7 linked regions of the Homo sapiens genome follow. The protein of the gene in region 5 interacts with the protein of the main gene of each other region in a pairwise test. Each region holds a gene or a part of one and is shown on either strand. Other genes may lie near its edges. The genes, in order: CKAP2, ATF7IP, CADPS, DLEU7, TTC3, LRPAP1 and KANSL2.

Region 1 (2,325 bases), on a different chromosome or scaffold from region 5:
GTTATAAGCAGGTAAAAGCATTTAATTGTCTTTTAGAGAGGTACTATAAGCTCACCGAAGTGAGAAACTTATCCTTTTCTCAATTTGTCATTACAACTTGTATACAGTAGATACCTGAGTATCTGTAGAACTGGCTAATTCCTGAAAGCCAAAACCTACTGTTATTAATAACACACAGATTAAAGTAAATTCAAATAAAAGTTTTCTTTTTCAAAATGGCAATAGTTAGGGAAAGTAAATACAGTATTTAAGAGGTGAAATGTTCTAATGACATTCTATTTGTTTAAAAACTTTTCTGTTTTCTTTTTTGTTTTGAGACAGGGTCTCGCTCTGTCATCCAGGCTGGAGGACAGTGGCATGATCTTGGCTCACTGCAACCTCTGCCTCCTGGGCTCAAGTGATCCTCTCACCTCAGCCTCCCAGGTAGCTGGGACTACAGGCACACAGCACCTTGCCCAGCCAAAATTTTTTTTATTTTTTGTAGAGATGGGGTTTTGCCATGTTGCCCAGGATAGTCTTGAACTCCTGGGCTCAAGTGATCTGTCTGCTTCGGCCTCCCAAAGTGCTGAAATTACAGGCGTGAGCCACCATGCCCGTACTGAAATTTCTATATTAATAAATGGTAGCTGTAATCTGAAGCTATCTCAAAGATTTTTAAATGCCGTTATTTATTATCTCCAAGCATGAAAACAAATCATGGTACATTTTAAAAGTTTACCTTTGCAAGTATGGCGTAGTAGACACATTATATTTAATTAAGCAACTTGTCCTCGTTTCTGTATTGGGGGTTTTAACATCATGGGTTGGATCTTTTGTTTTGTTGTCTTGCTCTTTTTCACAATCTTGAAATAGCAAATTTCTATGAAGTTTACTCTCCATTTCCAGTTTTTCTGGATCTACATCAACACCTGTATCTTCAATACTGACTTCTTTGACTTCTTCCTTGCTTGCACAAGACTTCTCCATATTTTCTCCTATAGAAAATACATTTATAGATTAAGCTTTTGGCTGAATTTTAAGAACAAAATCAGAAGACATTAAAGTTGTTCCTAGTTGGCCACATTTTCAAAATAAAAGAACACGATTGCCATCTCTGAACCATTCCTTTTCCTCAGCAAATACTGCTGCCAACTATATAACAAATACTATTATAAAATGAAATAAATGCTATATATGAAATAAGAACAAAGGATTATTAAAACCCACAAAAAGAAACAACTAACTTTGCCTGTGGTATAGGGAGATGGTTAGGGAATGCTTCACAAGCGAGATTTAGGCTGGGTCTTAAAAATGAGTACTTGATCAAGACCAAGGAAGACAACCTTCATATGGCACATAAAAGAAAATGATCTATTAAATTAACATAACATTAAAGAGCCAGTGTGTTTAGAATATAGGGTAAGGAACAAGGTTAGGAGTGGGAGCAGGAGGTATTGAGCTTAGATAGGTAAACAAGAGCTAGATTGTAATGAGCTTTATATGAAAGAAGTTTGGTAAAAAAAATTCACCAGAGAGCTAGATTGTAATGAGCTTTATATGAAAGAAGTTTGGTAAAAAAAATTCACCAGAGACAGACATAATTAAATTTGGTCAATGTAAAGGACTGTCTAGAATGGCAGAGAATGAAAAGTAACAATCTGTGATGGCAAGAAGACAAGGTTGTTGTAATAGCCTAAGTAAGTTAGGAAGAGATCAGATAGGAAAGGAAGGGTCCAATCTGAGAAATATTTCTGAGAACATTTTTTTTTTTTTTTTAGAGACAGGGTGTCTGCCGTTCTGTCACCTAGGATGGAGTGCAGTGGCATAATCTTAGCTCACTGCAGCCTCAACTTCCCAGGTTCAAGTGATCCTCCTGCCAAAGCCTCCCAAGTAGCTGGGCCTAAAGGTGTGTACCACCATACCCAGCTAATTTTTACTTTTTGTAGAGATGGGGTCTCACTATGTTGCCAAGGATGGTCTCGAATTCTAGACCTCAAGCGATTCTTCCACCTTGGACTTCTGGTGTTGGGATTATAGGCGTGAGCCACCACACCCACCCAAGTCAGAACTTATTAACAAATGAATACATGACTGTGTAGGAATGAGTGTGCAAATGTATTAGGAGCGTCTTATCCAACATTTCTTAAGAGTCATAAATGCCAGAGAAGAGTTTTTTCTTTTCTTTTTTGGGAGAAAGGGATGTTGGGTATGGGAAAGGGATACTGGGCATGGGAAAGCAGTGAGGGCAGACAAAGAGTTCAAAATAAAACATGTTAGGCTGGAAATACTTGTGAGACATCCTGGTGAATCCATTGAGCTGGAAAAAAAAACCTCTGAATTTAATTA
Region 2 (3,500 bases), on a different chromosome or scaffold from region 5:
CATTAACTTTTTTTGATAACTAGTGAAGTTGAATTTGTTATTGTTTTATATATGCATTTTTTTCATTTTCTGTGAATTAGCTGTTTGACTTTTTGTGTATTTTTCTATGATGAGTGTTACTGTTTTTCTTATTTGTTGGTAACAGCTACTTACGGCTTTGGGGTCCTTAGCTTTTAATATTTGTCACAGTAATTTTAAAATTACCTTTTAAGTGGTTTATGATTGTATATGTTAAGAAGTTTTGCATTTTTATGTAGTAAAATGTACTGCCCCCCTTTTTTTTTTTGAGATAGGATCTTGCTCTGCTGCGCATGCTAAAGTGCAGTGGCAGTGATCTCTGCCCACTGCAGCCTCGACCTCCCAGGCTCAAGCAATTCTCCCACCACTGGAGTAACTGAGACTACTGGTGAAGGATATCACACCCCGCTAATTTTTTCTTTTTTTTTTTTTTTTAATAAACAAAGCCTCATTATGTTGCCCAGGCTGGTCTTGAACTCCAGGGGTCAAGAGAGTTTCCCACTTCAGCCTCCCAAAGTGCTGAGATTACAAGCATGAGCCACCATGTCCAGCCTGTACTGCCTTTCCTTTTTCCTTTATGATTTCTACAGCACTTGTCTGCCCAGAAAATATTACCTGTTGTAAGGTGAATTGTATGTTTATATTGTATTTTATTTTATTATTATTGTTTTTTGAGGTGGAGTCTAGCTCTGTCTCACAGGCTGGAGTGCAGTGGTGTGATTTTGGCTCACTGTAACCTCTTCTTGGGTTCCAGCGATTCTGCTACCTGAGCCTCCCAAGTAGCGGATTACAGGCGTGCACCACCATGCCCTGCTTTTAGTAGAGACGGGGTTTCCCCGTGTTGGCCAGGCTCGTCTTGAACTCCTGACCTGAGGTGATCTGCCTGCCTTGGCCCCCACAGTGCTAGAATTACAGGTGTGAACCACCGTGCACAGCCTTGTTCATGTGTTTTGTTAATTTTTTACTAGAACTTTTTCTGGAAGTTTTAATAAACTTAAAAAATACTTTTACATCTATGTGGACATATCTGTGTTTTGACATATTGTGTGTTAAGATAAGTTGCTAGTTTCCATTTTTTTCCAGATATCTAGTTTCCATAGACTTGATCCATTTCTTATTGCTTTGGTAGCAAACAATTCTGATTCATATACTAGGTATATTTAACCTGGGGTCCATTGTCCTCTAGGGGTTCCACCGATCCCTTGATATACACAATTTTATGTAAGTCTGCATATGTTCATTTTTTTTTTTTTTTGAGATGGAGTTTCGCCCTTGTTGCCCAGGCTGGAGTGCAATGGCACGATCTCAGCTCACCGCAACCTCCGCCTCCCAGGTTCAAATGATTCTCCTGCCTCAGCCTCCTGAGTAGCTGGGATTACAGGAATGTGCCACTATGCCCGGCTAATTTTGTATTTTTAGTAGAGACGAGGTTTCTCCATATTGGTCAGGCTGGCTCGAACTTCCTACCTCAGGTGATCCGTCTGCCTCGGCCTACCAAAGTGCTGGGAGTACAAGTGTGAGCCACTGCGCCTGGCCTCCTATGTGCATTTTTCTGGGGAAAAAGTGATAGCTTTCATTAGCTTCTCAAAAGAATATATGATATAAAGTTTAAACAGAGGTTGACAATGACTGTATCTGGGCCTTATTCTTAGAGCATTATTGCATTGTTTTATTTGCTGTAGGACGGTACACAATTTAAATATGTGTTTGTAGTGCTATATCCTATATAAAATCCAATACCCACTCACAATTCTATTTTACAATTTTCATAGCTGATTTTGACTGTTTTTGCAGATCAACTTTAGGTTCATTTGGTTAATTAAGAAAAAAAAGCCAGCTAATGGTTTTGGTTACAATTCCATTAAATTTACATTGGGTGAATTTATAACCTTATACTATTTTTTTTAATTCATCGGTATTACACACTTCCTGTAGACTACCAAAAAGCACTATTTCCTAGGAACTCTGGGAGAATTTGTGGTATCTGTGACTTTTCAGGAGGATGTTTTCTTGGTGCAGCTATAATTTTAGTAGGGATGAATTAGGAGACAATATAAGGTTATATTTCTGTTTTCAATCTGGTTTAGGACATGATGACATAAAAGTAGTATCAGTATGAAGTTAGACGTGGGAAAAATAAGTCGCAAAATAAAGTATTGTACAATATTCGAAATCAAAATCCTTTTTTGTTAAACACAGACAATTTTTTTTTTTTTTGATGGAGGAATTTGAAAAGGTACCTTACTCCTTTTCTGGCCAGGGTGAGGCTTAATCTCATAATAAAGATAAAAAATTTTTATTTTAGTTTCCTTGGTATCATTAAATTATTATATTTTCTGATAAGGATGTTTCCCTAATTATTAGAATAAATTTATTTTCCATTAAATCTCTTTTTTATGCTGATTGCATTGAAAAAGATTATCTTGATTAATAAGGATGTATTTCAGCTGTAATTCTACTTTATATCTTTTAAATAATTGATTCAGGAGTCAGTTTATTGCCAAAATAACATTTTTATTGAACTAAACTTGTAAATTAGTGGAGGAATGAAAAGAAGAAATCACGGAAATATAGAACTCAAATGATAAAATATTATTGGCTTTATGAAAATAAATCTAGAAAATGGATATAAAATATTAAGATATTATTGGCCTTTCTTAAGCAGTTTATCTTTTTTAATGAAAAATCCCTGCCTTTGGGTCTTTTTCAAGCAACACTGCTTATAACAGCTTAGATATTTTACTTTTTTGTGAAAGTTGAGAACTTTTTCTAGTTCTGGTTTATTATTATACTTGGTTTCTAGACTATAACAGATGAGGAGTAAAAAATTAGAAGTGCTACTTGAGAAATGCATTTTGGTAGGGAAAAGAAATGATGTCCAGCATCATGATAGTAAAGGAGGGTTATATTTCTACTGTTAGAAGCAATAATTTATAAACTTAGTTATGAGGCTATTTAGTTTGGGAATCAGTATTCCCAGAGCTGAATCAGTAGTTATAGAATGTTCATTATTAATTGATGATTTTATTAATGATTCTGAATCAGAGAATATTGTTATATTTAACCTATTTCAGAAGGGAAATGAGCGTGTGATTTAGTTTAGAAGGATTTCTATTATAATTTTTTCTTTTAGGTTTTGAGGCCTATGGAAAATTTATGCATTGGCTGCATACCTTGTTTTTCAAGGGAGTCACATGTATAAAGAAGCTTGAGAATAAAGTTCCTGCCTTTTGAGTTTCTAACAGTTGTGGGGCATATTATTGATTGAAAAATTAGGTGATGTTTTAACATTATTTAAACAGATTACCTTAATGTCATTAATTAGCTTCAGAGACCATAGTCCTTGTCACTTTCCTAGAGTACTTAGAAATTGCCTATCCTTTAGTGGAACTCTCTTTTAAACTTCTTGCTTGTTTGACCTTATATTTTATTAGAGAGGCCAAGAGTATTTAAACATTACTTTGCCATGTTCTTTCTCAGAT
Region 3 (4,191 bases), on a different chromosome or scaffold from region 5:
GAACATCCTTTACTTCTTGAGAAGAATTAAAAAGTGAGGCTGCAAAACTGTCACAATCCCCGCACTGCTCAATTTTTTTTAAATTTTGTGTTGTTACCAAATGTGTGATGGCCACAAAAGTTGTGTCCTTGAGGTATGGTGGTGAAGTCAAATATAAGCCATCCAAGTACTTAACTCAAAAGATCAAACAGAATTGTTGAGGTTAATGTGAAACCAGTTGTTCTGAGTTCATCTGCAGGTCTCAAACAGGTCACTTTACTATCAAAGCTAGTAAAACTCATGGTAAATTATAAAATACGTAAAGACAAAAGTGATTTAAACTTTAAACTCATGCTACACTATTAAAATCACTCCCACGAGTATCTACAGATAATTAGAGAACTAGAAAATACATAAATATAGGCGATGAAGTGGAGAGGTCTCTAGATAGCCTAAGTTCTGAAGGTGGCTGGCTGGTGGTTTGTTTTCATCCATCTGCGTGCGGGTCGCAGGTTACATTCAGCACGTTGGCCAGCTCCCTCGTTTACCAGGTTTACTGGCCTAAGTGAAAGGAGCACGGGGAAGGCAGGCACCATCTGCTGCTTTGTATTAATAGTTTACCCGAGAGGCAGGGGTGAACAGAGTGCGACAGTCGACGCATTAGATGTTGACGCCGCTGAGTTCTTAGGGTGTCTTTGTCTGATCGCGGGGTCCCCAAGCCTCCACCGAGCCAGAATGGAGGGAGGGTTAAGCAACCAGAAACCCTTCTATTTTTCTGGTAGGCTCACCTCAGCAGAAAGCATTCCCAGGTCTTGGGAACTGAAGAAGATTCATCATAGATTTTGGGGGTGGGGGTAGGCAAGGTCGGGGGCGCTACATAAATGGTTGAGTTGCCTGGTCGAAACACCAATCCATTCAAAATTTGATTCACTTTTATTTTAATTAGACTGGGCGCATGCGGAATAAGTTGCTGGAATCAGAGTTTACACAGGTGGGACAAACACGCTGCCCAGCCCCCACGCCCCCCACGCCCCAGGTGTAAAGAAGCCTGGGGAAAGGAGATGGACCCTTTCTTTCCCGTATAAGATCTCACGGACTTCCTCCTCCTAAGTAAGACCTCTCGATTTAGCGTCTCCAAACAGCCCGCTCGGCTGGTTTCTGGATTTCTCCCTCCCCCAAGAACTTTTTGTCCGCGGGAGGGGAAAAGGGGTTGAGGCAATGAGAGCCAGATATCAACAAAAAAATTATCCACGAAGCCGGCAGGGGAGGAGGGTGGCAAGGTATTGGGGTCAGAAGTACTGAGGCTCTGAGGACGCTCCGCGCTCTCCCCCCTCCAGCCCTCTGCAGCAGCCCTTTACGCCGCGGACACGGGAGAGTTAAGCCAATAAACACGTAAGCGCCGCTCCCTCCCCAATCGGCAAGATGCCTCTTCGGCTCTTGGCTGCATCGACAGCTTGCAACACTCGGCATCTTTTCTGGAGGCGCCTCCTTCAGCAGCCGCAGATGGCATCCGGCTGCGGGCTCGGGGCTCGCAATTGATTCTCCCCCTTGCCCACCTCGAGTCCACGGACGCACCTCTCCCTTCCCCTCCTCCCTTCGCGCTTCTGGGTCTGAGCCCAGCTCGCGACCGCCGGGCAGAGGATCAGTCGCGGCGGCCGAGGCTGAGCAGCAGCGCTCTCGCTCCCTGACCTGGGGAGAAGCGCCCACCCGGGAGAGCTGATCCCCGGCTGCCTCCAGCGCCCCCCACCTTTTGCACTCCAAGCCGGGGGCTCCAGAGACCCCGCTCCCCAGGCGCCACTATGCTGGACCCTTCGTCCAGCGAAGAAGAATCGGATGAGATCGTGGAGGAGGAGAGCGGCAAGGAGGTGCTCGGCTCGGCCCCGTCCGGCGCGCGCCTGTCTCCCAGCCGTACCAGCGAGGGCTCGGCCGGCAGCGCCGGGCTGGGGGGCGGCGGCGCCGGCGCCGGAGCCGGGGTGGGTGCAGGCGGCGGCGGGGGCAGCGGCGCGAGCAGCGGCGGCGGGGCCGGGGGGCTGCAACCCAGCAGCCGCGCTGGCGGCGGCCGGCCCTCCAGCCCCAGCCCGTCGGTGGTGAGCGAGAAGGAGAAGGAAGAGTTGGAGCGGCTGCAGAAAGAGGAGGAGGAGAGGAAGAAGAGGCTGCAGCTGTATGTGTTCGTGATGCGCTGCATCGCCTACCCCTTTAATGCCAAGCAGCCCACCGACATGGCTCGCCGGCAGCAGAAGGTAGGTGCGCCTGGGAGGCCCAGGGAGCAGCACCCGGACGTCGCCAGGCGGGCGGGGTGAACAATGGGAGCTGGCGGCGCAGCTGGCGAGGAGGAGCAGGAGAGGTGGAGACCGCGCCCTGGGGAAAGGGCTACGAGGCCCCCTCCCAGCGGCCGGGCTCGCCCAGGCCCAGCCCAACCCAGCCTGGAGCGCTCCTGGAGCTGACTGGGACCGGCGAGGGCCGCGGAGCGCAGCGCCGCTTGCTCGAGCCCCCCCAGCCCGGGAGCGTTGGTGAGCGAGGCAGGCAGGTCCCGCTTTGTGGACCGAGAGGCTCGGGGAGTGATTTGCTGCCCGCGGCGCCCAGAGAGGCCTTGCTCGCTTGCAGGGCTCCCAGCGCTCTCCAGCGGCGGGCGGCTGCGCTCAACTCCGGGCCCGCCCTCCTGGGCGTGCGTTCGGCGGGCGGGGGCAACGGCAGGTGGGGGCGCCGAGGTGGAGGGAGAAGAGCGTCTTGGAGCAGCGCTCCGCTCGCTGGGGCAGAGAGCAACCGCAGGGGCAGGCGGGAGAAAGCAAGCCCAGAAGGCGAAGCTTCCCGTGACTCTGCGAAGGGCACCCTCCTCTCCCTGCCCGGGTCAGCTGATCACCGACTAGCGTCGCCAAAGTGTCCTCGGGCACTGCTTCCTTATGGCTGGAGTTCTCACCAGTCCCCCTGACCCTTCCTCACTGACCCCAGAGCAGGGGCACGCCCTCTGGTCCTTCCGTCCGGGTCAGCCCCTCCGCCGTCCTGTCTTTGACCCTATTCTCCTCTTCCCAAGGTGACTTCGCCGCCACCTTCTGGCTCGCCTGGGTCCTCCAAGCCCTGCCACTGCTGCCTTGATAAAGTACAGCTGCAAAAAGCTTCGCAATCTGAGGCATCAAAAGCTTTTTCTGTCTGAGGCTGGGGCAAGGCTGACATAGCTCTGGGCTGCCTTTGATGTTAAAAAAAAAAAAAAAAAGGCGCCTATTTCTATCAGCTGTTCTTTAGCTGGAGAAAGGGATGAGGGGTACTGCAAGATGAGGGGCAGTGGCGGGGGGTGGGGACAGAAGAAAAGCAGGCAGGAACCCAGCTGGAGTGAGTTAGTGAAGAAAGTCAGCGTTCTGTTCTCTTTTAAATAAATTTGCAGCACTTGAGCTATCAAAAAAGCCAGTCAAGCCCCACACAGAGGCAGTGTGAGGCCAGTCCTAACCCCATCAAGACTGTGAGACTAGTGTCTGAAAATAGTGAATCTTTCAGTTGCTGCCATTTAAGAACAAATTACATGTTGCTGTAGTAGCATTAGGTTTTCCGTATTTATCCACCCTTACCTTGAGTTAGCACAGATTTCTCTGTTTGTTTTGCTTACATGTGTACACACACCACCCAGCACTGATGATTTATTTCAGCCATCACGAGCTTGGATATCAGTTTCATTAAAAGATAAAACTGATTTCCAGGGTGAGAGACAGGAGGTGGGTTACACACAAGACTCTCCATCTTTATCTGTGGCCCCTTGTTTTTTCAATTCGTATTTTTGACTGCAGTAGAGCAAAAGTATCCTCAGAGAAGTAAAAGTTTTTGGGATATTATTTTAAGGCTGGATGTTGAGTCCACGGGGCCTAATAGTTCACATTTCAGTTTGGAATTCCTATTGTAATTGTGCCTTTACAGCATAGGAACTTCAACCTCCAAAATCTATCCCAGTAATAACAGCACCAGCCAAAAATATTCCATTCCTTTGACAATGAAAACTGTGACTTTAAGTGTTAGGTCGAAAGGGGTGGGGGAGATGTCTAGAGACATTTATCAAAGTCTCTAGAGGTCTGTCCTTTAAATAGTTGCTTAAGTCCAGAGCTAGCATGGAGAAAGAAATCCCACAGAGACACAGTTCTTCTAAACAGAAACTTCAGTTACTTTAGAGATTATTATAAGGCCAGATTTTTCTGATCTGATTGTATGCTTTACCTGAATCCACTCAAA
Region 4 (4,174 bases), on a different chromosome or scaffold from region 5:
CCAAAGTAATTTCCTCTCTGTCAATGCACAGACGTGCATTTTTACTTAGTTATAATTAGTGTGAACATACTCGTTTTTGTTTAAGAAAGGTTTTCTTTACCTTGGCATTCAGATTCGTTTTCATAGGCGAAGAAAGCACTGGGAAGGAGAAGGAACCTTTGCTGGCAAGTTGGGAGGATTATATGGGGTCATACTATCCCAGGGTTAAGGAAACCTTAAAGGACCCAACATCCCTCTCCATATCTCTTCTGATGATCCTTTTGTGCTCACAGACTAACCAGTGTGGCCTTTTCACTCAAAAGCCTCTCCAGATCTGCACAGCACCAAGGGTGCAGTCTGGCTCCCAAAGGAGTAATGCAATTCCATCCTCAGGTCTGCCAGGGCCCACCTGTCTGTCGTGGGCATGCACCATTGCCCTGGCTTTACTGGGCTGTTGGGTTGTCTAGTGGTTTTCCTTGCAGAAAGCAAGCAGGAACAATGCTGCTCCGGACTGGTTTTCCATACCACTCCTCTCAAATATCTTCTATTTTCTTAAGTGTGATCACACACCCATGGTTTCCAATCTATCAAAGCATAACATTGCTAGTCGCTTTTTTCTAAGTTAAGGAAGTAGCCATGTTGGGTTTAATTAAAAACAGCAACTATTTGTACAGCTGTCCCTAAGTTCATGGCTCATAAAAGGATTAACTTCAACCTTGCTGCCTAAGTCTTTTGGGAGTGTCACAAAAAAACATTTAGGCTTTTCTGGGCAGTGCCAGGCCTGGGCCTTGAGGCTTGCTGATGCTAGTTCAGCCACCAGGCTCTCGGTGCTCAAGTGGCACCCAGCAAAGCAGAGAAGAGCAGAACTTCCAGATACACAACTCCTCCTTCTTTTGTTTGGGGGATGCAAGGCCTTGAAGGCTGCTTCAACAAGTTTCTGAAAATTCCCCTCGGGTTGGGAAAGGCACAGTCTTCCTTTTGCAAGTTTTTCTAGAGCCCTTCGTACTTTTGCCCTAGAGTGGGTCTTTTGCACCCCCACCTCCCAGACCTCAGTGGTCATTGGCAGGCATCCTTCGAAGGAGGTGGGGGCGGGGTATCCCCGCCGATGGATGCGCCCGCACAAAGCAGCACGTTTTCTCATCAAAGCCCTGGAGAGAGGGAAGAAGCAACGCTCAGCATTTCGCTGATTTTCAAGTGCACACCGAGCAGCGCTTCAGGCAGCTTTGGGTCAGAACACGCCTGATTCGGACTTCAGGCGAAGGCAGAGGCCAGCACGGGTCACCGATTCAGAGCCGGGGGCGGGGCCGACCACACACGCTGTGAGACCCAGAGGCCGAGGAGCCGCGGGTTAGAAAATGTGACCTTGGCGACCCCAACGCCCCCGCCTCCCTCGCTGCTGCTCCACCTGCACGCGGAGCGCGCCGGGCCGCCAGCGGAGGCGATGGCCAGCCCTGCGCCCTTAGTGGCCTCCATCAGCCACCAAATGGTGGCTCTGCAGACCTTGCAGCTGCTGCAGCAGGAGTGGGGCTGGGGGGACGGTCCAGTCGCCCCCGGGAACCCGCGGGACCCAGACCACGTGTCCACCGCTCCAGCCCGTCGCTCAGGCCCGCCGCGGGCCCGGCCGGGGCCCGGGCGCGAGGAGCGGGGCGGGGGCGTGGGGACCAGGAGTCGGCGGACCGCGGCGCGGGCGAACTCCCCAGAGGAGGAGGTAGTGCGAGGCGCTGAGGGGGGCGCCGAGTTGCTGCCCTTCCCCCGGGACCGCGGGCCCTGCACCCTGGCCCAGATGGCGATGCGCAGCGCGCTGGCCCGCGTGGTGGACTCGACTTCGGAGCTGGTCAGCGTGGAGCAGACGCTGCTGGGGCCCCTCCAGCAGGAGCGGTCCTTTCCCATTCACCTGAAGGTGAGTCTGGCCCCCGCCATCCCCTCTGGCGTGCAGGGTAACCTCCCATCCTCCAAGGGTGGGGCTGCTGGGATGGCGATGGGTGGATCGCAGGATCCCAAACACTGCTGCCCACTGTGATTCAGCCCCAGTGGGAGAAGGAAGGGGGCGGGGGACACTCTGGGGACTCAGCAGGAGGGGCAGGGAGCCCCAGACCCACCTGAGGCCCGCCTGGCTGGCACAACCGAGATGTGGGGACTGCCTTGCCAAAACCTCCCCCTGGAACTCCTTCCTCTCTCACATAAATCAGCTTCCTGCGCTAGAAAGGCCCTTTCCACACGTGCAGCTTGTAGGGATAGAGGACAGCTCCCCCCACCCACTTTCCAAATTAATAACGCTTCCTCCAGAGCCTTAAATACACTTACTAAGTCCCTTCTGCCTTTTGTATGATGAAATCATCTACATTTATTTAAAGTTCCTTCACATTCATGAATCACTATTATTTTTTGCATAAATCCAATTCCCCACAGAGCTAAGGGGTCTTACAGAGTCAACCTACATTCTCATAAAGTGGGGTGAGAGCTGGGTGGGTCCCGGGTGTTAAAGCGTGAATACTAAATGCTAAACTCTTGCTAAGTCACCCAGCTCATATAGGTAGGGCACATTTCCTCTTAAGGTACCAAACTGTGTTAGCCAATTTAGCCCGGGAAGGGAGCAGCTGTCTCCCAGGCTGAGTGAGATTGCGGAAATCTGGGGGTCTGGGTTTCAGTCCTGGACTTGCCATTAACTAACCTAATTGGTTTAAGGTCACGAATCTCTCTGAGACATTCTGGCTTTCAGATTTTGACCAGGAGCATTGCTGTATTTTATTTCCCTGGGGCATCTAGCAGAAGGAGTTGGGGAGGGGTGATGAGGAGAGCTTAGAATATGTCTCAAGAGTTGCTATTCTGTACAAGCCAAGGTTTGGAAAAAGTTGCTATACATTAAGTTGCACTATACACTGTAAAAGATTTATTTAAAATCAAACATAATAAAGCCTATTATATACCCAAATAGGTATTGTTTCTCTACGTAGGGGTTTCTCAATCTCTGTACTATTCACATTTTGACCTGGCTAATTCTTTGTTGTCGGGGGTTGTCCTGTGTATTAGAGGATGTTTAGCAGCATCTCTCGCCTCTACCTGTTAGATGCCAGCAGCATATTCCTCGCCGCAAGTTGATACAGCCAAAAATGTCTCCAGACACTGCCAAAGGTGGCGGGGGCGGTGGGGTGGGAGGCAAGATGAGAAGCACTCCTACACTCACTTTAGAAAGTTAGAAAATGAAGCTGCATTTCACCAAATGCTCTCCAATGTAAGATGTACTTTTTTTTGGTATCACCAAAATTTTTTTTAATCCTGTCATTGAACTATGATACACCATTGATTATAAGTTACATGCTAATTTAAGGGATTTTTTTTTTTTTTTTTTTGAGACAAGGTCTGCCTGTGTTGCCAAGGCTGCAGTGTGGTAGCCATTCACAGGTGCGATCATAACACTACAGCCTCGAGCCCTGGGCTCAAGTGATCCTCCTGCCTCAGCCTCCTCAGTAGCTGCAACTACAAACCTGTACCACCACATCTGGCTGATTTCAGGGATTTTTAAAAAATGTGAATAAAAGTGCATTTTAAAATAGATGAAATATGAAGTGACTTGTGATGTCAGTAGCACATACAGGGCATAGGTAAGGCTGGCAAAAAGAGAGACTGACAATCAGTTTTACCTAAGGTGACCCTGGAAGGCTTCTCAGAGGAGGCAGCCTTTAAAAAAAAAATACATGTTATTTTCCAGACATTAAAGGGAAAAATATTTCAGGAGAATACTTTGGTTAAGGCCCAGCAGCACTGAAAGGGACTGAGGCTCTAGAGGAACTACAGTTAAGTTCAATATGGCAGAAGGCAAAAACTGATGCTGGAGACACAAATGGGGGCCAGTTAGGGAAAGGCCTGTGTGTCATGCTGAGGACCTTGGATTGTCTTGCAAGCAGAGGGTAGGTAAATCACAGAAGCCTGGATAAATCACAGAAGGGTAGGTTTCAGTTTGAAAGTCAGGTCAGAAGACAGCTGTCTAAGGGCTTGACCCAACTCAGTGGCAATGGACTAAACCCCGTGTCCTCTGCTCTGGAAGCAGTCCACTATAAACTATGCCATTTTAGCTTAATGCCACAGTCACTTCTACTTGGAAATCCTTTTAGCCCTTTCTAATTGACTTTTGATTCTAAACATTTTCCATCCTCCTCAAGCCTTCTTCATCCAAACCTCAACCCGCTCACACCTT
Region 5 (3,500 bases):
AACCTAGAAGCCAGTCATACCCAACTGCTTGTCCTTCCTAAACAAAACTTATTCTGCAACCACCTAATGTCTATTAGTTCTTAATACTCAATTTCAGGAAGCATTTCCTGATCTTCCCACTACCATCAAGTTGATTTTTGCACCTCTTCTCTGTAAACAAGAGCACCCTGCCCATGTCTCTGACAGCAGTTTTCACATTGTTTGACCATCACAGGTTTATCTCTGCAGGGTCACTATGGATCCAGAGGATATATTGTGCAATCCATTTGCCATCTGTACTGCTATTTACTTAATACTTTTCTTTAGGATAACTCAAATCTTAACTTAGATGTAAACTAGTTTTAATGGAAATGTTGGTATCACCAAGAAAGCTTGCTTGGTACCATAAAATTTTTTATAATACAATCAAACAAAAATATACTACTAAAATTAAATATTAAAATAAAGAGCTTCTGATCCCATCAGTTATGGTCAACTATACACTCTGGGGGAATGTACTGTTGGGAGGAAAAAGGTATATCCTAGATTAAAAAAAAAAACACTTTTTGGATGTTTTTGCTGAGCTCATAGAAATAGGGGAACATGTGAAGGCACCCTCTCCACGCAAAAGCAACAAACCTTGAGCTAGAAATTAAACCTGGCTACAGTTTAGTGCTACAAGTAGTGGTGCCAAGAGCAGTAATAGGATCAGGACACTGAGCCCTGGGCCAGAAGCAAAATGTAGGAACTCAAAAGTGATGCCAGCTAAACTTTCTGGCTCCCAGACAAAGCTGATAGAAATGCTTTCAGAAAGCAAGCATCCTCAAATTAGACTCTCAAGATCACCACAAAGATCAAACAGAAGTTCATAATCAATGATCACCAAACACATGAGGTGACAGCTACATTGAGGAGAGACAACAGAAAAAAAAACAAAAAAGCAATAAATTTAGACATCCCCCTCCTCAAGGATATCAGACATTGGGAATGTCTGATATAGTCTACAGAATAGCTATAGAGTCACAAAAATCAGCATATAACATGAGAACATGAAGAATGACTGGACATATCAAAAAAGAACCAGGCAGAACTTTTAGAAATTAAAAATGCGGCCGGGCATGGTGGCTCATGCCTGTAATCCCAGCACTCTGGGAGGCCAACGTGAGCAGATGACGAGGTCAGGAGATCGAGACCATCCTGGGTAACACGGTGAAACCCCGTCTCTACTAAAAATACAAAAAAATTAGCCGGGCGTGGTGGCGGGCGCCTGTAGTCCCAGCTACTCGGGAGGCTGAGGCAGGAGAATGGCGTGAACCCGGGAGGCGGAGCTTGCAGTGAGCTGAGATCGCGCCTCTGCACTCCAGCCTGGGCGACAGAGAGAGACTCCATCTTAAAAAAAAAAAAAAAAAGTAATTAAAAATGCAATTGTTAAAAGAAAAAAAAGAGACAGGATGGGTTACAGAGGATATTAGGCACAGTTGAAGAGAAAATTGGTGAACTAAAATATATGCCTTATGAAATTATCCAGCACTGTAAATTCTGGTAAAGAGAAACAAAGAGATAAAAAATATGAAAGATAAAGAATAAGTGATCTGGAAACAGTTTAGTGTATATATATATCCAGTTAAAGTTCCAGCAGGAGAGAAGAGACTAATGAGACATAATATTTAAAGAATACAGGGCTCAGAAACTTCTAGATCTCATGAAAGACAAAATGCAGAATCATGAAACACATGCATCCAAAATAGGATAAATATAATCTCTATCTAGACTTAGAAGTGAAATGATGTAACACAAAAGACAGAAAATCCAATGTAACTAAAAGAAAAATGATATTTTCTTCAAAAAACGCATAAATAGGCTGGGTGCAGTGGCTCACGCCTGTAATCCCAGCACTTTGGGAGGCTGAGGCGGACAGATCACGAGGTCAAGAGATCAAGACCATCCTGGCCAACATGGTGAAACCCCATCTCTACTAAAAATACAAAAATTGGCCAGGCATGGTGGCAGGTGCCTGTAGTCCCAGCTACTTGGGAGTCTGAGGCAGGAGAATCGCTTGAATCCAGGAGGCGGAGGTTGCAATGAGCCAAGATGGCGCCACTGCACTCCAGCCTAACAACACAGCAAGACTCCACCTCAAAAAAAAAAAAAAAAAAAAAAAAAAAGGCATAAATAAAACTGGCAGCACACTTTGTATAAGCAACAGCAGAATAGTATTCCTACCCTACTGACAGAAAAGAAACACCAACCTACAATTGTACATCCATCAAAATGATCTGTCAAGAACAAAGGTAAAATAAAAATACTTTTAGATTTTTTTTAATATCTAAAACTGAGTCAAACACCAACCAAGACACCTGGAACATAACCAATTAAAAGACAGAAGTTGTCTGGTGAGATTAAAAGAAAAATCCAGTAGTATGTCCCTTATAAGAGACACTTAAAATGTAAGGACACTAAAAAAAATCAAAGTAAAATGAAAGAAAAGAATATTCCAGGTAAATTAGCACCAAAAGAAAGACGGGATCAGACAAAAAGCCTCTAAGACAAAGAAGCAAACTTAGAGAAGATCACAATATAGTAAAGGTTCGAGCCACTAGGAAAAAAATGTTAAGCTTGCATGTAGCTAATAAAAGTCTCAAAATACAGAAGAACAAAAATTGTTAGAACTACAGGAAATCTGTTAGAAACTAGTAATGGTGGAATATTGCAACACACTTCTCTCAGTTAATGATAGGATAAACCAAAATTAATAAGGATAAAGACTATCAGAACAACACAAATAACAAGCTTTACCTAATAGACACTTAACAATTACAGAATATATACTCTTCACAAGTGTACACAGAACAGTTCTAATAATTCACTATGTACAAGGCCATAAAGCAAGGGCAAAAAAAAAAAAATGCTAAAAAGATAAAATATTCTCTGGCAACACAAGTAAGAAATCGATAATTAAAGGAAAACAATATAGACACATTTGAAAATTTAAAAATGTCTAAGTAACTCATAAGTCAAAGAAAAAATCAAAATAGAAATTGTAAAAATACTTAGATTTGAAAGTTAATGAAAACACTATAAATTAAACTATGTTAGATAAGCAAAAATGAACTTTGAGGAAGTTTACAGTCTTGCATGCTTATACTAGGAAATCGGAATGGTTGAAAATTAATATTAAGTGTGTAATTTAAGTGAAAAAAATAGTAAAATAATAAACTGAAAGTAAAATGAAATAATAAAAGAGAAAAAAGATCAATGAAATAAAAAACAAATAATAGAACAAATTAGGCCAAAAGTTAATCCTTTGCCAAGATTTTAAAAATGGACAAACTTTTACTAAGACTGATCAAGAAAGAGAAGTCAGACATAAATAATATTCAACATGAGAAAAGGGGAACACATATACAAATAAAACAGAGATTAAAAAGAGAATTAATGCCATACCACGAGCGGTGGCTCACACCTGTAATCCTAGCACTTTGGGAGGCCGAGGTGGGCAGACCACTTGAGGTCAGGAGTTT
Region 6 (2,655 bases), on a different chromosome or scaffold from region 5:
GTATAGGATTGGCATTATTTGTTTCATAGAGATGTGATGGGTGAGGCCATCTATGCCTGCCATTTTCTTTTTGCTTAGGTTTTTCATTAAGAACTTGATTTTTAAAAATAGACATGAGGCCTGGCATGGTGGCTCACGCTTGTAATCCCAGCACTTTGGGAGGCCAACGTGGATGGATCACCTGAGGTCAGGAGTTTGAGACCAACCTAGTCAACATGGTGAAACCCCGTCTCCATTAAAAATATAAAAATTAGCAGGGTGTGGTGGTGCATGCCTGTAATCCCAGCTACTCTGGAGGCTGAGGCAGGAGAATCACTTGAACTCAGGAGGTGGAGGTTGCAGTGAGCTGAGATCACACCACTGCACTCCAGCCTGGGCAACAGAGCGAGGCTCTGTCTCAAAAAAAAAGACATGAGGCTTTTGGATTTTCTGTTTCTTCCTTTGTCATTTTTTTAAAGATAGGTTTGTCGCAGAATTTCATCTAAGTTATCAAAACAATTTACATAAATCATTCACAGTATCCTCTGTGCAGTGATGTCCATTCTCATTCCTGCTCTGGGCCATTTGTGTTTTCTTTTCCCCCTGATCAGACTAGCTAAGAGTTTATCATTTTTACAGATATTTTCCCCAAAGAAACCTACTTTTGGGTCCATTGATTTTTTTTTTCTATTGTTTTCTTTTTCATTGACTTTTGCTCTTTTCTTATGAATTTCCTTTCTTCTACCTATTTTGTGTTCAATTTGCTGTCCTTGTTTTAGGTTCTTTTGATAGAGGCTTAGATCATTGATGAAGAATATGAAAGAATGGGATAATACAGTTAAAAACTTGGTCTACTTATGCCCATTAGAGAAAACATTCTTAAGCACGCATGGAATCTTTTAAAAATGGACGAGGTACTAGGACCCAAAGCAAATGTCAGTAATTCGCAGATGATAATGTATAAATATATGATATGTAGGTAAATAATACAAATCACATTCTTTGGCCAGAGTGCAATTGAGGAGGAAATCAGTAACAAAAAGACAATTAAATCCATTTGATTCTTTTGTTTTCGTTTTGTAGTAACTTGCACTTCCCTGGTGCCAGAGGCATGACACCTTTTTGTCTGCTCTTGGCCATTTGGGTGGCGTCTTTGGGAAGGGCCTACTTAATTCTTTTGCCTATTTAAAAAACTGGGTCTTGGAAATCTTGTCTTTTTTTTTGAGTCAGGATCTTTCTCGCACAGGCTTGGAGTGCAGTGGTGCGATCATAGCTCACTGCAACCTCAAACTCCTGGGCTCAAGCGAGCCTCCCACCTCGGTCTTCTGAGTAGCTGGGACTACAGGCATGCATCACTATGCTCTGCTAATTTAAAGAAAAGGTTTTTTTTATAGAGACTGGGTCTCGCTGTGTTGCCCAGGCTGGTCTCGGAGTCCTGGTCTCAAGTGATTCACCTGCCTCCACCTCGCGGAGTGCCAGGATTACAGGTGGCGGGAGCCGCCACACCCAGCCTGGTCTTAGCGTTATTCCCAGGTCTAGGTGTGAGTCCTTCCTCAGATATGTGTTGTGAATAATTTCCGATCCTCTGGCTTGCTATTTTACTTTCTTAATGGTTATCTTTTGGAAAGCAAAGGTTTCCAGTTTGATGAAATCTAATTTTTATTTTTTATTTTTCCGTTCTAGTGGTCTTTCTATTTTCTCATCAAATTGAGACTTTGGGGAAACTACACAGCAGCAAACCAGGATATATCCTCTTAAAAACAGCTCGAGCCGGCCGGGTGCGGTGGCTCATGCCTGGAATCCCAGCACTTTGGGAGGTGGAGGTGGGCGGATCACGTGAGGTCAGGAGTTTGAGACCAGCCTGGCCAACATGGTGAAACCCCATCTCTACTAAAAATAAAAAATTAGCCAGGCATGGTGGCAGGCACCTGTAATCCCAGCTACTTGGGAGGCTGAGGCAGGAGAATGGCTTGAACCTGGGAGGCAGAGGTTGCAGTGAGCCGAGATCGCGCCATTGCACTCCGGCCTGGGGACAAGAGCAAGACTTCGCCTCAAAAAAAAAAAAAAACCCAGCTTGAGCCAAGTGTGGGTGGCTCCCGCCTGGAATCCCAGCACTTTGGGAGGCTGAGGCGGGCAGATCACTTGAGGCCAGGAGTTTGAGACCAGCCTGGCCAACATCACAAAATCCCATCTCTACTAAAAATACAAAAATTAACCAGGAGTGGTGGCAGCATCTGCCTATAATCCCAGCTACTCGGGAGCCTAAGGCACGAGAATCACTTGAAGCTGGGAGACAGAGTTTGCAGTGAGCCAAAATCGTGCCATTGCTCTCCAGCATGGATAACAGAGCAAGACTCTGTCTCAAAAAAAAAAAGCTTGAAAATTTAAAAATATCTCAATAATTATGAGATGCAGTGATTTTTTTTTTACTTCCCTAAGCTGGGTTTCCAGGTATCTCTAGGTTCAGCTCCTCCGGGGCTGGAAGTACATGAAGGGCAGCATTGCCCACCTTGACCAGAGCAGGCTCGGAGCAGGGCAGTGGAAGAGCTGGTCCCAGCTCAGCCCAGCCTGCTGGGTCAGCATCCATCTGAAAGGTCATCTCTACCCAGGAACTTGATGGCTTCCAGCTCCACCCTAACAGAAACCTCCCCAGCATCTTGCCGAGTTGTAATCCAG
Region 7 (2,764 bases), on a different chromosome or scaffold from region 5:
ACCTCAACCTCCAGAGTAGCTGGGACTACAGGTGTGTGCCACCGCGCCTGGCTTATTTTTGCAGTTTTTGTAGAGACGGGGTTTCACCATGTTGCCCAGGCTGGTCTTGAACTCCTGGGCTCAAGTGATATGCCTACCTTGGCCTCCCAAAGTGCTGGGATTAGAGGTGTGGTGGCCAGAATTTTGTTTTTTAATCTACTGTATTGGTCTATGTTTTACACTTGGCAGCAAAAGCTCTCAGTGCTTTTGGATCTTGTTTCATTTGTTGGACGCTCTTGTAAAATTTTTTTTTTATTAAAGGTAGGCTAGGGTTGAGGGAGACAGCAGAGTATTGCTTTAAAGTTTGCTGAAAAACATGCCAACTTTATTACTGTTTCCCTTGGTATTGCTGATGGGCTTTTCTCTTTTTTCTAGGACTTGGATGTTGTGGGTGATGGTATGCAGTGTCCTCCTTCACCTTTGCTTTTTGATCCTTCACTAACCCTTGAAGATCATTTAGTCAAAGAAATTGCTGAAGACCCAGTGGATATTTTGGCAAGTGAAGAACAGTCCCACCTGTTTCCCTCATGTAGTGACCTGGCCAGGCAGAGGGTTCCCTGCTAGATAGCATGTGCTCCTGGAGGGGAGTGGGGTGTCATCACTAGTATAAAGATGCTCCACATGTCTCTCACTTATTGAATACCATATAAGCAAAGCACTTTTAAAAATGCCCTACTCTGCTCCTGTGTACCCTTGTTGCTGTAGTTCTCCAGATGGGCTCTTAGAACACCTAATGGCCCGTGATCCTCATATCCCAGAGTAGGACATACATTTATTTAAATAAAAGCTTGAGACAAGGAATCTAGGGAAATCATACCTTCTGAGGGAGAGTTCATCACTGAAATTGTTCTCATTGTAGAAGGACCAGTAAAGTAATGTGATTTGAGTTCTGTCCGTGAGCCTTGGGTAGAATTCCAGTGGCCCTGACTGAAGACCAGCAGTTGTACTGTGGCTGTTGGTTTCAAGCAGAGGCCTAAAGGACTGTCTTCCTGTGGTCTGTTGGCTGTTCTGGGACCTCAGTAGGGAATGGCTATTTCATTTGGAAGAAACAACCTACAGCTCACCATCCCATTGGAAGAGGCTCAGGAATAGGCTCTTCCAAGGGACTAGGATAGCTAATATGGGAAGAGCATCTGTCCAGAATTAATTTCTGTTGTATTGTTCTTATTGCTAGTTTAAGTGGCCACTGATAAGTCAGATTCATACTTCAGACCACAGTGAATGAATTACTAACTGAAGTGCCTTTATTTCTTTTAACAGGGCCAGATGCAGATGGCTGGAGATGGGTGCAGATCCCAGGGATCTCGAAATTCTGAGAAAGCCTCTGCACCATTGTCTCAGAGTGGATTGGCTACTGCAAATGGGAAGCCAGAACCCACTTCTATTAGTTGATAGTTTGGGGAACCATTTTACTTTGGTGGATTTAAATTTCTCGTTCTTCAAAGAAGTATTTCTGATCATCTCTCACAAAACACAGGCAACCCAGACTACCTTGTTTTTCTTCTGGATTGAGTATTATAGTCAAACGTAAAGCCAAATTTTGAGGACGTGGACCGTGGGTTTCTTCCCACTCAGGGCAAGGAAGAGAAAGAGAGATAATCCCTATCAAAGCTTCTGGGATTATTTGGGACTATACCTAAAAGGAAAGTGACATCTTTGTAATGGGATTTCCCAAGTCATGGATAGAAATCCACTTAAGTAGCTAGGTGGGAGCTGTCTTTGTGAGTGGTGTCTTTGAGATACTGATGGCCCTAATATCGGTTATCTCTATCTGAAGACCTGCAGTTTAGCTTTTCTTCACCTCTACTTAATTGGGCAGTCTTTAACCCCTTTCCCTGGTGAACTCTGGCTTTTTATCCTCTGAGAAAACAGCCCACAGGACTGGGTCCTCCTTATCCGTCTTGCTTTTAACCTATGTAAATTTCTGTGGTTGCTATCTTATGTAAAATATAGTAAAAATTTATTGTATATAGTTTCTATTAAATGTTAAAGAAAATGTTATGAAAATATCAAACAGTCACCTGAATTGAATGCATGTTTTGTTTGAGAATATAGTTTCTTTTTCGCGGTTTTGGGGACCTGTCTCTGATGGGAAAGGGAAGTTGGGACAGATGATACTTCCATCCCAAGAAGTAAATAAATCTTCAGTAGCTCATTTTGGTTTTGCTTTGAAGGAAGAAGTAAATGAAAAGGGGCAGGACTTATTAAAGCCCATCAGTTCCAAATATCTTTCTTCTTTTTACCCTCCACTCTGTGTCTCCTACACCCACTCCCATTTCTCACGATTAATGCCAATGCCATCTCTGCCAGACGTGGTGGCTTACGCCTGTAATCCCAGCACTTTGGGAGGCTGAGGTAGGCGGATCACTTGAGCTCAGGACTTCAAGACCAGTCTGGGCAATGTGGTGAGACCCTGTGTCTATATTTTTAAATTTTAAATAATTATTTTTAAAAAAATAATGCTAATACCATCTCAGAATTCTCTAGTGGTAGGAATATACTTAAAACATAGAGAAATTGGGCCTGATGCTGGATCACTAAGATAGACATAGATAGGTATTGTCAAGATCGTTTTGACACTGAATCTTAGAGCAGGATTAAAATAGAAGTTCAGTTAGGGTTGAGGTACCTATGCTAGAAATTGTCTATTTCTATACTGCATTATGACAAGGAGGGCAAAAGATTACTTTCTATAAGAACTGAAATGGGCACAGAATGGCTTACA

What was found.
Region 1: the proteins of TTC3 (region 5) and CKAP2 interact in a two-hybrid assay, tested with the Homo sapiens proteins (one large-scale study listed by BioGRID and IntAct).
Region 2: the proteins of TTC3 (region 5) and ATF7IP interact in a two-hybrid assay, tested with the Homo sapiens proteins (one large-scale study listed by IntAct).
Region 3: the proteins of TTC3 (region 5) and CADPS interact in a two-hybrid assay, tested with the Homo sapiens proteins (one large-scale study listed by BioGRID and IntAct).
Region 4: the proteins of TTC3 (region 5) and DLEU7 interact in a two-hybrid assay, tested with the Homo sapiens proteins (one large-scale study listed by BioGRID and IntAct).
Region 6: the proteins of TTC3 (region 5) and LRPAP1 interact in a two-hybrid assay, tested with the Homo sapiens proteins (one large-scale study listed by BioGRID and IntAct).
Region 7: the proteins of TTC3 (region 5) and KANSL2 interact in a two-hybrid assay, tested with the Homo sapiens proteins (one large-scale study listed by BioGRID and IntAct).

The regions. Positions count from the first base shown.
Region 1 is NC_000013.11:52,472,478-52,474,802, reverse strand, and holds part of CKAP2 (cytoskeleton-associated protein 2), read right to left. Parts: intron 975-2,325; coding exon 719-974; intron 1-718. UniProt on the Homo sapiens protein: Possesses microtubule stabilizing properties. Involved in regulating aneuploidy, cell cycling, and cell death in a p53/TP53-dependent manner.
Region 2 is NC_000012.12:14,368,682-14,372,181, forward strand, and holds part of ATF7IP (activating transcription factor 7-interacting protein 1), read left to right. Parts: intron 1-3,500. UniProt on the Homo sapiens protein: Recruiter that couples transcriptional factors to general transcription apparatus and thereby modulates transcription regulation and chromatin formation. Can both act as an activator or a repressor depending on the context.
Region 3 is NC_000003.12:62,872,617-62,876,807, reverse strand, and holds the start of CADPS (calcium-dependent secretion activator 1), read left to right. Parts: upstream 1-1,391; 5' UTR 1,392-1,778; coding exon 1,779-2,219; intron 2,220-4,191.
Region 4 is NC_000013.11:50,840,893-50,845,066, reverse strand, and holds the start of DLEU7 (leukemia-associated protein 7), read left to right. Parts: upstream 1-1,374; 5' UTR 1,375-1,420; coding exon 1,421-1,879; intron 1,880-4,174.
Region 5 is NC_000021.9:37,079,754-37,083,253, reverse strand, and holds part of TTC3 (E3 ubiquitin-protein ligase TTC3), read right to left. Parts: intron 308-3,500; exon of another isoform or gene 1-307. UniProt on the Homo sapiens protein: E3 ubiquitin-protein ligase which catalyzes the formation of 'Lys-48'-polyubiquitin chains. Mediates the ubiquitination and subsequent degradation of phosphorylated Akt (AKT1, AKT2 and AKT3) in the nucleus.
Region 6 is NC_000004.12:3,505,768-3,508,422, reverse strand, and holds part of LRPAP1 (alpha-2-macroglobulin receptor-associated protein precursor), read left to right. Parts: 3' UTR 1-2,655. UniProt on the Homo sapiens protein: Molecular chaperone for LDL receptor-related proteins that may regulate their ligand binding activity along the secretory pathway.
Region 7 is NC_000012.12:48,652,711-48,655,474, reverse strand, and holds the end of KANSL2 (KAT8 regulatory NSL complex subunit 2), read left to right. Parts: intron 1-414; coding exon 415-534; intron 535-944; exon of another isoform or gene 945-1,093; intron 1,094-1,299; coding exon 1,300-1,431; 3' UTR 1,432-2,264; downstream 2,265-2,764. UniProt on the Homo sapiens protein: Non-catalytic component of the NSL histone acetyltransferase complex, a multiprotein complex that mediates histone H4 acetylation at 'Lys-5'- and 'Lys-8' (H4K5ac and H4K8ac) at transcription start sites and promotes transcription initiation.